Regions from separate parts of the Homo sapiens genome. Here region 1 is linked to region 2. The links come from fine-mapping of genetic effects on gene expression. A gene starts in region 2. The other region holds a variant in brackets. All regions are shown on one strand. Distances are from middle to middle. Region 1 has its middle 23 kb from the start of LINC00523. Region 2 holds the start of DLK1 (delta like non-canonical Notch ligand 1).

What was found. PIP is the estimated chance that this variant, and not a neighbour inherited with it, causes the effect.
Region 1: its variant is fine-mapped to the expression of DLK1 in left ventricle (GTEx, PIP 0.97).

Annotation. Positions count from the first base shown.
Region 1 is chr14:100,678,980-100,681,770 of GRCh38, reverse strand. No RefSeq gene overlaps it. Among named protein-coding and RNA genes, the nearest start is that of LINC00523, 23 kb to the right of the region's middle. RefSeq lists enhancers at 654-1,247, 1,842-2,435. The variant T/C (reference allele first, on the strand shown) is at 1,695.
Region 2 is chr14:100,725,655-100,728,445 of GRCh38, reverse strand. DLK1 (delta like non-canonical Notch ligand 1) reads right to left here and starts at 1,554. Exons shown (of 5, transcript NM_003836.7): 1 at 1,311-1,554; 2 at 1-50. The coding sequence starts at 1,377.

The sequences.
Region 1 (2,791 bases), 47 kb after region 2:
CGCCAGCTTCTACCCCCACTCCCAAGGATGCCAAGGACCCAGGTTACCAGGCCGATGACACCCCTCCCGGCTCCTGTCGTGGCCACCCCAGGCAGCCGACTGGTCCCTCCTGCTGAAACACCTCTTCCTGTGGCTTTGGGACCCGAGTCCCCCTCCTCTTTGAAGACCCCTTCCCAGACTTTCTCCAAAGGCCTGGCTCTTGCCCTTGCCTCCTAAAGCTGCCACTCTGAGGGCCAGTCCTGGCTCCATGCCCTCCCCTCCTGCCATGCTACTGGTGGCCTCATCCTCCTACCACTGAAGACCCCATGTGCCCAAGGCTCTTACGTGCCCAAATCCCAGCTCATACCCAGAGGCCCACCCCAGAATCACAAACCCAACGTCCCTCTCTCCTGAAAGCATCAGCCTCCACGTGTGTGTCCCCCATCTCCCACCTTCTTGAAAATTCTGCCACAACCCACGCACTCCTTCAGCCCACTGCCCCACCCATGCCCCCTCGCTTCTGCTCCAGGCACTCTCCACATCAGCCCCTCCGGTCCCCAGCGGGCTGCTCAGGGACGTGTTTGCATCATGGACCCTTCTGCCTGGAGCCTGCTGTTTCCTGCAGCCGGGGTGCCCCCTTGCTACCCTGGCCCACGTTCGGACGAGAAGCCAGATGCGGACTCCGTGTTGCTCCCTCTCAGGTCCCAGTCAGAGCCTGTGATATCACTGTCCAATCACATGCCGTGTCCCCCGGGGGCCCTCTGGGATACAGAAGTGTCAGTTATCTCTGTGTCCCTAATGGTGGGACAGGAAGGGCATTCAGGCCCACGCAAAGGCCTGCGCTCAGCAGCAGGAGTGCAGAGACAGCTCACTGGCAGCAGGAGGGCGTGGGGCTGCTGGGGCACGGTAGCTGGGGCTGAGGGCCTCTTCCGGTCCCTCGAGGGAGGAGCATAGTCTTTATCCAGGGGGCCACAGGGGCATGGTCACGTCTGAAGCCTTAGGAAAGGTCTGAGTAGAGGCAGGAAGTGGCCTCTGGCCGAGATCGCCTTTGCCTGGCCTCAAGGCCATCCGCTTTCCCACAAGACTCTTGGCCATGGTTGTTCAGGCCACTGTGAGCTTTTTTATGAGGCTGGAGGTTTGTAAAACTTATTAGTTGGTGGAAACTTGCGGGCTGCCGGCCAGCCCTCTGTGGTGGTGGCAGAACCCTGCCCGCAGGACACCCACGTGGCCTGTGACAATGGGGGGAGGCGGAGGGAAGGGGACCCCAGTTCAGGGGTGGTCATCCTCGGCTTCCCACAGCCAGGCGTTCTCAGCCGGTACTGGAGGGAGGGGCTGTCGCCTCGCACCCACCGGTCCTCAGGACACTCGAACCAGGGTTGTGACCACTTGGGAGCCTCTGGGTTGGAGATCAGGCTGGTGGCAGTGCAGGAAGGGAGGACCATCCCCAAACAGCGTGGCCTTTACCACAAAGGAGCCACCCTGGGTTGTCTCCTGGACACGGGTTCAAATCCCTGGTCTGCAGCCACCTAGCCATGTGGCTTGGGACAACAGCAGTAGAATTCCTGGTAAACACCCACTGGTCCCAGGCTCTGAGCTGAGCTCTCACATGAACCAAGTCAGTTGTCAACAGCCTGGAAGGGGACCACCATTATCATCTCCTCTCTAAGTCACATTCTCCTCTGCAAGAGAAGAAGAGTGTGGCGCCCACTTTCTCA[T/C]GTCACAAGAGAGACACTCGTCAGCACCTGGTGCACATTAGCCGCCTGTGGACACAAGCTCTTTCCTTTCCCACCACAAGGCCCTCCTGGAGCTGGCCGCCTCCTCTGCCTTGCTGGGGAGTTCCCTCAGCAGGAAGGAATGTGCAGGCCCAGCGATCTCTGGAAACACCCGGAGTCTGCAGAACGTGCTGGACGCGGTCAGCTGTGTGAGACCTTGGCCCCCAGGCCTCTGGATGCACTGGATTCCCTGGAACAGTTAGCAGGACACAGGGCAAAGGCCTTTCTCCTTCTGTCGGTAATCAAGACCATCTGAGGACCCACGGGGCGCTCACGTTCTACCTTCCCTGGCTTGGCTGAGGGTTGAGAGGGCCTCGGGAAGGGTGGAGGGAGGAGGGAGAATGGACATAGGCCCATCTTTCGGCCTAGATGGAGGAACCGTGTGCTGGCTGGGCAGGCTGCTGGCAGAGGTCAGGAGGGCTCTTCCCTGAGCCCTGCCATCCATGAACTGTGTAACTTTGATCCAGGCCTTGTCCCTCTGGGCCTCAGTTTCCCCAAGCTGGATGTGTCGTCCCCCTGCTTCATTCACAATTACCACCAGAAGGACCAACACCACCCTGCAAGACTCAATGGGGTGATGGATCAATCAGAAAAAAAAACAACAAAAAAAAACACAGATCGCCTAGGGCTTAATTAACAGGAGCATGGTATTCATAGCTGGGGAGGTGAGAGTCGGCTGCAGACTGTACCTAGGCACTAACACTCAGTTCTGGGAGAAAATGACAACTGATGCCTGTTCAGGAGAGGGCACTGCGGTGGGTCTTGCAAGGAACAGATAGGAGAAGCCCTGAGACTTGGTTTGGAGGAAAGAGGCCCAGAAGGTCATGACTGCCACCTCCAGATGCGCTGTGGCCCCGGAGCAGTACTAGAAAGCCCTTTCCTAGCTATGAGACCTCCTCCACAAAGGAATGCACGTTCAATGAGGTAGTGAGCTCTCTAGTCCCGGAGGTAAGCAAGTCTCTGGGTGGCATCTGGGACCTTGTGGATGCCCCAGCAGCCTGGCTGGGCTTACCCTGAGGGGCTAAAGGGAGTGGTTGGGC
Region 2 (2,791 bases):
ATCCTCGCAGAATCCATTTTGGGGGTTGCAGGCCGGGAAGCATTCAGCCCCTGAGGTACAAGAAAGGTTATACAATTCACCCCACCAGGCCCCAGGCCAAGGCAAAGGCTGTCTTCGCCCACACAGCCCACCACTGCCCTCGAGGGCACCAACAGCCCTCTTGGGTCCTACCAGCCTGGCACACAGTAGGCACTTCCTATCCGAGCATGGATGGGGCTCAGTGCACTCAGGAAAAACATCTCTGCCACGTTCCCAGCAATGAAATGACCACAGTACACTCTCCCTCGTTCTTAGGAGCAGGAGAAACACCTTCTCCTCGGACTCCCAAAAGCAAATACGACACCTCAAGTCCTCCTAACAGCGGGGACGGGGACCGTGGAGGGAAATATGTTGAGCCCTGGGCATGCAGCCTGACCGTCACTTTTGCAACCTGAGCTGAAAAGAGGAGCAGATTTTGAGGTGTTCAACTCCGGGAAAGCCCAGACAGGTTCACCTGGTGGGCGCCCCAGTAAGGCGTCTGCATTCTTTTTAAGGTTCATCCCTATTAAGCCGGGCACCCAGGTCAAATCTTCCCTCTTTCCCCTACCCCAGACTCTTCGCATTAAAAAAACGATGACGACACAGGGTTTTGCTTAGCGGGCTGAGGTTGCAACAACACTGCTTAGAGATTCTGACACTTTAACAGGCACCTACTGTGTGCATTTACTCAACCAGCTCCCCAGCTTTCTAGACAGCCCCCTTACAACCACTGGTGCAATGAGTGGGGGGGCGCTGCAGGAAGGGGGCAACTCTCTCGCTGTCAGAGACAGATGGCCGCTGCAGACAGAAGTGTCGCAGCCCCTCACCTACAGAAACGCGCCACGCAGGAAGGGCTCAGGCTGGGCTTCTCTGGGAATTGGGGGCTAAGACGGCAAAGTCGTCCCCCACTCCCGCCCCGAGACCTGTTCCAGAACGCTCACACAGGGACACCCCAAAGTTGCACCCCAGAGTATTTTCATAGAAGACTCCACAACAGCACCCCATTTTTCCATACCTCCTTGCTCAGCGCACCGACACCCCTCTGGCGCCACTTCTGCAGGGCGGGAAGGGGCTGGGGGTCTCACACATCCCCTGCGCCCTGGGACCCCTGGGACGGGCCTTGGCATGCGAGCGTGGTGGGTAGGGCGAGACAGGCACAGCGCGGGGCTTAGGGCTAGGCGGGACGGGCGGAGTTGGGGCTCACGAGACGGGGCGTGCGGGGCACCGGGCGGCCGGCGGGGAGTCGCAGGCTTCCCCAGAGGGGGCGCGAGCCGGGCCGCCGGGGAACTCACCATAGGTGCTGTGGCCGAAAGCCAGCAGGAGCAAGAGGACGCGCAGGAGGGCTTCGGTCGCGGTCATCTCTGGGCGGCCGGGGTCGCGGTCCCGGGAGCGGTGCGGGCGCGGGTCCGGCTCCTGGCGCCGCACTGGGCTTCTGGTTGCGGACGCGAAAGGGGGCGCGGGCGCGCAGCGAGGGGAAAGCCAGGGCTGCACCGGGCTGCGCGCTGCGCTCTCCACCGCCGCTGCCGGGGAGCTGCCGCCGCCGCCGCGCGCGCCGCCCTTTTCGTACCGCCTCCCCCCTCGCGGCCCCCGCCCCCCGCCCCCGCCTCCGTGCGCACGGGGCCGGCGCCGGCCAGTCCCTGTGACCCCCTCCCCTCGCAGGGCCGCCCCCGACCACGGCGGCGTCCCAGAAGCCCGCTCGCGCACACGGGTGCACTCTTGGCTAGACGGGCACAGGTATCCCGCGAGCGTTTGGTACACGTTCCCTCACACTGTACAGCACGCGGCCGCCGCGCACATACAGGCCTGCCTAGGACAAGTCGCAGGAATCGAACCTGGGCCGCAGACCTCCCCGGAGAGCACAAATCCGCACGCAGGAACACCGAAACACTTATCGCTGAAGTCCCGGGCACACGTGCAATGGTTAGATACCCAGGAAAACACAAAGGCGCACTATGAAGATGTGAACTAAGCACATAATTACACACGCACACAGAAAAACCCCCAGGAAAAGCCCGACGCCCCCTGTACCCCTGGCCATGAAGACGCAGAAAAATGCAGTTGCCCCGTGGCAACCCACACCCCGCAACGGAAACGCACACGGCAACTCAAACACACTGTAGCCCAGACGCCGTATAGACACAGTCCTAGGTGGCAGAGGGTCAAGCGGACCTGCGGTTACCCAACCATGGGCATCCTCCCCCATGTGCCGACCCCCTGCACACAGACGCTTACGCAGAGCCACCTGCACACCCAAACACGCAAACACACGTATAAACAGACGGACACCCGTGCCCGCATTCAGTCACACCCACCCCCGCACACACAGCATCTCAGTCAGGGCCTTAGCCGCGCTGAAACACAAATGCACCGACTCTTACGCACACATGTACGCACAGCCATGCACCTGATACCCACAAGCACACATACCCAGCTGACTCGTGGTCACACACACTGACAAAAACATATACGCAGTCCCCACACACACACGATCGCATCTGTCTTTGTCCACAGTGGCATGCATGGGCAGCCTCACCAATGTGCTCTCACATACACACAATAGCACTCCAGGCACTCGGCACGTATTCCAGACTCACTGGGAGACCTTCTCTGAGGGGTCGCCCGCTGGAGAGGTGGAGGTAGAGGATGCTGATTGCCAGAGACCCTCTTCCTCTGCAGAGCTCCCAGGGAGAGGGAGTGCTCCTCAGACACCCCTCCTCCCCATTGCCCCCGGCTTAGGCTTAGAGCCCTGCTGGAGAGGAAAGCTCTGCACCCC